Linked DNA regions of Homo sapiens: region 2 is linked to region 1. Evidence: fine-mapped expression QTL. A gene starts in region 1. The other region holds a variant in brackets. All regions are shown on one strand. Distances are between the middles of the regions. Region 1 holds the start of ACVR1B (activin A receptor type 1B). Region 2 overlaps ACVR1B (activin A receptor type 1B).

The links. PIP is the estimated chance that this variant, and not a neighbour inherited with it, causes the effect. A credible set is the group of variants that fine-mapping cannot tell apart.
Region 2: its variant is the best candidate, but not a certain one, in a credible set for the expression of ACVR1B in monocytes (TOPMed, PIP 0.71).

The regions. Positions count from the first base shown.
Region 1 is chr12:51,950,003-51,954,272 of GRCh38, forward strand. It overlaps ACVR1B (activin A receptor type 1B), which reads left to right and starts at 1,697. Exons shown (of 9, transcript NM_004302.5): 1 at 1,697-1,832. The coding sequence starts at 1,742. RefSeq lists an enhancer at 1,475-2,094 and silencers at 1,552-1,611, 1,642-1,691.
Region 2 is chr12:51,987,644-51,991,913 of GRCh38, forward strand. It overlaps ACVR1B (activin A receptor type 1B), which reads left to right. Exons shown (of 9, transcript NM_004302.5): 8 at 4,220-4,270. It also overlaps the pseudogene RNU6-574P. Among named protein-coding and RNA genes, the nearest start is that of TAMALIN, 17 kb to the right of the region's middle. The variant C/T (reference allele first, on the strand shown) is at 2,214.

The DNA of each region.
Region 1 (4,270 bases):
ACCATGGTTTCAGATTTCTAGCCTCCAGAACAGTGAGAGAATACATTTGTATTTTAAGCTACCCAGTTTGGTAGTAGGAAACTAACACAGTAACCTAGCACTGTGTGCACCACAGCTTGGTGGATAGAGCATGGATTGGAAACCACTTAGACGGACTGGGTGGGGTGTGCCTATTTGGGGGAGATGAGGGAGAGGAGAATAAGTTATTTACTCATCCAGCTACACTGACCAACTTGTAGACAATGCCTCCCCATGACTTTATGTGATTGTGTGTACACTGTGTCTGGCGAGTGTGTCTTCAGCTTTATTTTTTCCGGATATGACGATGGGAGTTCTTCAGGTTGGTGAAACTTAGAAGGTGAGAATTCCATTTAAGCAACTGTTCTCCCTATCTCTTGGCCATCCTTTCCACCCCTAGATCTCAGATGGTGAAGCTGTGCTTAGAGAGGTTCAAACCTTGCCCAAGTTTTCACAGCTAGTTAGTAGGAAGCAGAATTCAGATCCAGAATTCTCTGGCTGCAAAAATTCTGCCCTTTCCTTTATATCAAGTTCTTTCTCAAGCTAAAGAAACTGACCTCTTTTCAGAAAGATACGGAGTGATTTGTTTACTTTCTTAAGCATTTCTTCTAGATTTGAAAGTAACATTTATTTGAAAAATATTTAGAAATTATTGAAATGTTAAAAGTAAAAAAATTATGGCAATAACTACTGTTACTATTGGGTAAATATCCTTCCAGTCTTTTTTTCCTATAAACACATATTATCAGTACAATTTGAATAATACTGTAAACAGTGTTGCATTTTGCTTTTTTAATTTAACATTATCTTGTAAGCATTTTCTCATGTCAATAGTTTTTGTAAACAGGATTTTAAATTACTAAATAATGTTCCATCATATGGATGGGCCATAATTTAACATTTTCTATTATTGTCTACTTAGTTTCTACCTTTTTTACAATGATAAATATACAGTTAACATTTTTCATAAACATCTGTCCTCTTATTATTTCTTGAGGACAGGGGACAATACTGGGTAAATGGATATGAAGATTTTAAGGCATTTGATGCATAATGCCAATTGTTTACCAAAAGGGTTCTACCTACCAGCCCAATCAGAGTGCCTCACACGGCACCCTCACCCATACTGTCATCAATAAAGAGCTTTGCTATGTTCTGAAAAGGCGCGTGCCGCGATTCCATCACACAGGCTGCCGCGTCCAGAGGATGGCAGGGGGCGAGGCGAGGCAGGGAAACCAGTTAGGAGACCGCGGCGATGATCCCAGGGGACGCGCTGGGGGCTTGAGGCTAGGCGCAGGGATGGAGGAACTGGAACACGCACGGGATTCGTAGAATATTCGACGGGGGCGGGGGATCGACTCTGATAAGATAATTCTGCACTGCGTGGGGTGCAGGAGAGGGAGGAGACTGCACGTTCGGCTCCGGCCTCCTCCGCGCCGGGCTCGGCACCGATCCGCGAAGTTGGCCGAGGCGTGAGCCCCGCCCACCCCTTTAACAGGGACACTCCCCTTTAAGGCGGGCGCCCGCGCGCGCCCCGGCCCCGCCCTTCGGGGGCGCGCGCGGCGGCCGCGGCGCCGGCTCCGCCGGGAGCGCACGTGCAGGCGCCGGGCGGAGGAGAGGGAGGCGGGAGCCGGGCCGCGGGAGGAGGGGAGGCGCCGGGGGCGCGCGCGCGCGCGCTGGGCGCTGCTGGGCTGCGGCGGCGGCGGCGGCGGCGGTGGTTACTATGGCGGAGTCGGCCGGAGCCTCCTCCTTCTTCCCCCTTGTTGTCCTCCTGCTCGCCGGCAGCGGCGGGTCCGGGCCCCGGGGGGTCCAGGGTGAGTCCTGGGACGGGGGGCGGGGGCCGGGATGGAGAGGGCCCGGCAAGGGCGAGGCCTCGAGCCGCGGCCGCTGGACTACAGCGCGCCCCCTCCCCACGAGCACAATATGGCCGGGTGGGGGGCGCAGAGGAGTCGGGGTGACCCCCAGTCAGCTTCCCCGATCTCCGAGGCGCAGCCGCCCGGCGGCGACGGAGCTCACGCCGGGCCCCTGGGGACCCGAGCCCTGTTCCAGGCGGAACTGGATTCGGGCAGTTCTCAGGGGTCGCGCTCCCAGCGCCCTCGTGTTCCAGAGAGGGGAGTCTGAGCCTCCAGCTCCAAGATTTGGAGGTCCGTGGTTTCTGCCCTTCACCGTGTCCAGGGGCGGGGGGCTTTCTTCCCTCCCTCCAGGTGCTCCTGGGGGGCGTCTTTCTCCCGCCAAGACTGTGGGGTTCGGGCGGTGGGGTCTTAGCCTCTCCGAGGGAACCTGATGTTGAGAGTCCGCGCACCTCAGACTGTAGGGGAAGGGGTCTCTAACCTTTCCTTCAGGTCCTGCACTTGGCGTGTTTCTTCCCCTCCCTCCACTGCCTCCCTAATGTTCTGGGAAAGGGAGTCACATTTCCCCTTCACTCAATCCCTTGAGTTCAGTGGGGCAATCCCCCCTCCGCCCTCCGGCACTCATGCCCCGTGGAGGCTATTTGGAGGAAGTGGGACGAACAGGCCCCTAAACCTTTTTGGAGCCTGGCTTTGGAATCCCTAACCCTATGGAACCGAGTTCCCCAAGGGTTGATGTGAATCTAGGTGTATTTGCTTTCCTCCTCGCCTCCCCCACCCTACCCCGGGGGGCCCATTCAGTTAATCACTTTGTGGATGCCTTTCAGGTGAAATCCTGGAACCTGTCTCCAAACCCCCAAGATTATTTAAAGATCCCACCACTGGACTGTATTCCCGGCCCTTGGTCAGTACTTATTTACCTTCCTACACGATGCCTCTTCCCAGCCCGCCCACCCTCACACACCCCTTACCTCCCAATCCCCACAGTCTGCGGCTCGCCTTATACCACCCCCCCACTCTCCTCTCTGTAGAAGCGGGTACCTTTTTGCGGGACACTTCGCTGGCTGTGTTGTTTTTGAGGCTTTGGGGGCTGAGAAGAGCAGATGAAACCCTAAAATATTTCATTTAAGAGAGTCTTGGCGAATGTGTTTTGGCCTTGGGGTAGCAGATGAAGGTTATATTTGGCAGTTATATTGAAGCGATTATTGACCCACAGATGGATCTGGGAGAGATGATCAGGATTGTATTCGCTCCTGACGTACAAAGCCTGATGCTTTGACTTCTCAGCAGCCCCTAACCTTCCAGCAATGGGAGATAAAGTGTGTTCTGTGGCTCTCTTCTCTTACACTAAAAATAATGATTCTCAGGTGGGTTCAGTCGTCTTTAATAAACCAGACAGTCAAGAAAAGACACCATGCCACTTTGGAATCTCAAAAACAAGTTCATTATCTCCGGCTTTGATATTTGTTCCCAGTGGTGGAGCCTGTGCAGCGGGGTCTTTGTTCACGGGCTAATGCTTCTCCTAAGCACCTCGTGTGTGTTCTTCGGCCTCACTGCTCTGTGGCTTAGGTATCTGTGCTGTGGGGTTTGAGAAACATGGTGAAGGTGTATGAACAGAGCTTGACATTTGTGGTGAGATAATGATTTGCATGAATAAGGATGTTCGTCGGGCCTTATTAAGGGCCATGTTTTTGGAATGTGTAACATAATGTTCTCTACTGGGTAGTAAAAAAAAAAAAAAAGGGAGATTGAACCTCTAGGTTTGTCATTTTATGTGTGTATGTATAAATCTTTAAATCCTCATATAGGAATTTTTATCCTGCCCCTAATATATCCAGGATTTTTAACAGTCATTTCCCTGCTGATTTGATGTAGTGTTTGTGGGGTTTTTCTGGTTGTGAGCCTAGTTAAGAATGTTTGATAATCCAAGTGGTTCTGAATGGGGCAGAGTTCATTTTTTTGTAACCTTCCTAAAATGGATGTTTGTGGGGGTTAAGGTGGGTGAGTAAAATAGGGAGTTCGTTTCTTTTTTTGGTAAATTGGAAATTAGGTTGTGTGTCCAGCAAACATTCTCCAGGGCCTTTAAACTTCTTGGCCAGACACTACAGTTTTTTCCAGGACACGTCTAGTTGCCAATAGTGTATGCTATGGAGACCACTGCTGCAAAGGGCTTAAAGTAAAACGTCAGTTCTGGGAAAATAGAGGCTGTGGGATAACAAGAAGTTGATTTTTTTCCCCTCCCCTGCATTTCCTATATAGTGCTCCCCTACGTGGGCTGGAGGAGTGACAGAGCCAGACAGCTCTGATGCCTGATACTTGGACTTGATGTGAGGGGCAGTAAGGGATAGGTGTTTCTATTAATTAATGAATTAACTAGGACTTAGTAAAAGGCCAGTGATAAGGAG
Region 2 (4,270 bases), 38 kb after region 1:
AAAAGAACTGGTGGTGCTCACTTCGCCAGCACATATACTAAAATTGGAACAATACAGAGAAGGTTAGCATGGCCCCTGCACAAGGATGACATGCAAATTCCTGAAGCGTTCCATATTTTTTAAAGACCTAGTATTTGATAGCACCACAGGGTGACTATAGTCAATAATATAATTGTACATTTTAAAATAACTGAAAGAATATAATTAGATTGTTTGTAACACAGTGTAAATGCTTGAAGGGATGGATATCCCATTTTCCCTGATGTGATTATTATGCATTGCATGCCTGTATCAAAACATCTCATGTACCCCATAAGTATATACATCTACTGTGTTCCCACAAAAATTAAAAATTAAAAAAATCTAATCTACAAAAAATATGACAAGTCTTCCAGCAGAACTGTTTTGTATATTAATACCCTTTTCCAGCTTCCATTTATGACATGTTTGGTAAAATCCAAATTATGGAAATAGTGCCCAGGTAGTATTCATGGAATTGTACCTCTTAAATTTTGATCAGTATATGCAGTAAAACAGACTAAGAGGCCAGGCGCAGTGGCTCACGCTTGTAATCCCCAGCACTTTGGGAGGCCAAGGCAGGCGGATCACGAGGTCAAGAGATCGAGACCATCCTGGCCAACATGGTGAAACCCTGTCTCTACTAAAAATACAAAAATTAGCAGGGCATGGTGGTGCACGCCTGTAGTCCCAGCTACTTGGGAGGCTGAGGCAGGAGAACGCTTGAACCCTGGAGGCGGAGTTTGCAGTGAGCCAAGATCGAGCCACTGCATTGCAGCCTTGCGACAGAGCGAGACTCCATCTCAAAGAAAAAACAAACAAACTAAGAAAAATCTGGTCACACAGGTCTTAAACTGTGAATAAGTTTATTTCTTCTTATGACATCCAGAAATTGAGGCTAAATATATAATAATGCTAACATTTATTCACCACTTGCTATGTATAAGCTCATTTAATCTTTACTACTACAAGTAAATAATAAGTAGGTGCTATTATCATCGCCATTTTACAAATGAAGAAAATGAGTCACAGAGAAGTTAGGAAATTTGTCTAAGGTCACATAACTATTTTAGTAAACAAGGGTTCAGACTCGGACAGGCTGAGGCCAGGGCTTAAGCCTGTAACTACCCCTTAGATAATTACCAAGTCCAATTCTCTATTTAAAAATATTTCCCAGGCTGGGCACTGTGTCACACCTGTAATCCCAGCACTTTGAGAGGCCAGGGTGGGCTGATTACCTGAGGCCAGGAGTTTGAGACCAGCTTGGGCTACATGGTGAAACTCTATCTTTACAAAAATAAAAAAATTAGCCAGACATAAAGGCCAGGCATGGTGGCTCACGCCTGTAATCCCAGCACTTTGGGAGGCCAAGGTGGGCGGATCACCTGGGAGTTCGAGACCAGCCTGGCCAATGTGAAGCCCTATCTCTATTAAAAATACAAAAATTAGCCGGGTGTAGTGGCGGGCGCCTGTAATCTCAGCTACTCAGGAGGTTGAGGTAGGAGAGACTCCATCTCTACTTAAAAGAAAAAAAATTGTCTCATTAGCTCAAGACAGCAGGGTTTTTTTGTTTTGTTTTGTTTTTCTTTTTCTGGAAAAGGGCTTGAGAAAAATTAATTGGCTTTTTATTTTTATTTTTTTGAGAGAGGGTTTCTCTTTGTCACCCAGGCTGTATTGCCATGGCACAATCTTAGCTCACTGCAACCTCCGCCTCCTGGGTTCAAGCCAGTCTCCTGCCTCAGCCTCCCGAGTAGCTGGGATTACAGGTGCCCACCACCACTGCGGGCTGATTTTTCTGTTTTTAGTAGTGATGGGGCTTCATTGTGTTGGCCAGGCTGGTCTCGAACTCCTGACCTCAGGTGGTCCACCTGCCTTAGCCTCCCAAAGTGCTAGGATTATAAGCGTGAGCCACTGTGCCTGGCCTAAATTGGCTTTTTAAAACTATCTTTTTATTATGGAAAATCTTTCTAAGTTTGTAGTTCTTAAAGATGAGGACTTAAAAAAATGCAGTGCTATTACCACACTTTAAAAAATGAACATTAGGCCGGGCGCGGTGGCTCATGCCTGTAATCTCAGCACTTTTGGAGGCCGAGGTGGGCTGATCACAAGGTCAGGAGTTTGCAACCAGTCTGGCCAACATAGTGAAACCCCGTCTGTACTAAAAATACAAAAAAATTGCCAGGTATGGTAGCGTA[C/T]GCCTGTAGTCCCAGCTACTTGGGAGGCTGAGGAAGGAGAATCACGTGAACCAAGGAAGTGGAAGTTGCAGCAAGCCGAGATCGTGCCACTGCACTCCAGCCTGGGCAACAGTGGAGACTCCGTCTCAAAAAAGGAAAAAAAAATGAACATTAGGGGTCAGGTGCGGTGGCTCGCACCTGTAATCCCAGCACTTTGGGAGGCTGAGGCGGGCAGATCACCCGAGGTCAGGAGTTCAAGACCAGCTTGGCCAACATGGTGAAACCCCGAATCTACTAAAAATACAAAAATTAGCCGGGCATGGTGGCAGGCACCTGTAATCCCAGCTACTCGGAGGCTGAGGCAGAAGAATCGCTTGTACCCGGCAGGTGGAAGTTGCATTAAGCTGAGATTGCGCCATTGCACTCCAGCCTGGGTGGCAAGAGTGAAACTCACACACACACACACAAATTTAGTGCTTTTTTTTTTTTTTTTTTTTTTGAGACAGAGTCTCACTGTCACCCAGGCTGGAGTGCAGTGGCGTGATCACAGCTCACTGTAGCCTCCACCTCTCCAGGCTCAGGGGAACCTTTCACTCCAGCCTCCTGAGTAGCTTGGGACTACAGGTGCACCACCATGCCCTACTAATTTTTGTATTTTTTGTGGAGACAAGGGTTTTGCCATGTTGCCCAGGCTGGTCTTGAACTCCTGTGTTCAAGCAATCCTTCCACCTCGGCCTCCCAAAGTGCTAGAATTAGAGGTGTGAGCCATTGTGCCTGGCAAACATTAATGTCACTTAACATCTAGTCAGTGTTGAGATTTCCCCAGTCTCCTAAATTTTTAAAGCAGTTTGTTCAAATCGGGGTTCCAATAAGTTTTATCCCCTGCAGTTGATGAATACACCTCCTACATTTCTTGTCTACATGTTCCCCCTCATTTTTTCTTCCCACTCTGTTTTTTCGGAGAATCCAGGTCATTTGTCCTGTAGAATTTCCCAGGCTAGATTTTGCAGATTGCTTAGGTAGAGTTCACATATTCTACTCTTCCTGGTATTTCCTATGAATTGGTAGTTAGATCTGGCAGCTAGAATCATTTCTGGGGGTTCGGGGACACGTATCCTTCACAGGGGTTCCTCTGTCCTTCTGTGACAAGTTGCGTAGCATTGGTTCTCTATTTTTGTGTCGTTAACGTGCCGTGGTGATATTGTCCAAAACTAAGCGAATGATTACTTCCCCTACATATGTATTTGGTTCCCATGATATATAGTTGGAATAGGAGAGGCAGAAAAAATACTTGATTCTTTCCACTTATTTACCATTTTTCAAAATAATGAGGTGGTTCTGTAGCCTCCCACAGAGGTAGGTGACTGAAATTTCCTTTTTTAGACTTTAAAAATATTTGTTTCCATTGAAGTTATTTGTCTTATTGTTACTTAAAAGTTCCCATCTTTGCTCAGTTGGGAGCTTATCAAGTTGGTGCCTTTTGATGTGACCCCCAGTAGTCTTTGATAGATTCCTTGCTTTGGCTATGAAAAAAAATGTTCCTGGCTACTCTTTTGTATTTCTTTTTGTTTAGTTGTTTTGTTTGAGACAGAGTCTTGCACTCTTGTCCAGGCTGGAGTGCAGTGGCATGATCTCTGCTCACTGCAACCTCTGCCTCCAGGGTTCAAGCTATTCTCCTGCCTCAGCCTCCCTAGTAGCTGGGACTACAGGTGTTTGCCACCATGCCTGGTTAATTTTTGTATTTTTAGTAGAGATGGGGTTTTACCGTGTTGGCGGGGCTGGTTTCAAACTACTGATCTCAGGTGATCCGCTTGCCTTGGCCTCCCAAAGTGCTGGGATTACAGGCATGAGCCACCATGCCCGGCCCCTTTTGTGTATTTCTTGTTCCATACTTAGAATTAACTAACTTTCTAAGGAACCTTAGGGGGTAGTGGTATTTACAGAGCACAGTGTAGGTTTTGTCACCGGCTTCTGAGTAATCTTTTCCTGCTGTTGATAACTCAGGTAGATACTTTCTTTTCTCCCAGGAGTCCATGAAGAATATCAGCTGCCATATTACGACTTAGTGCCCTCTGACC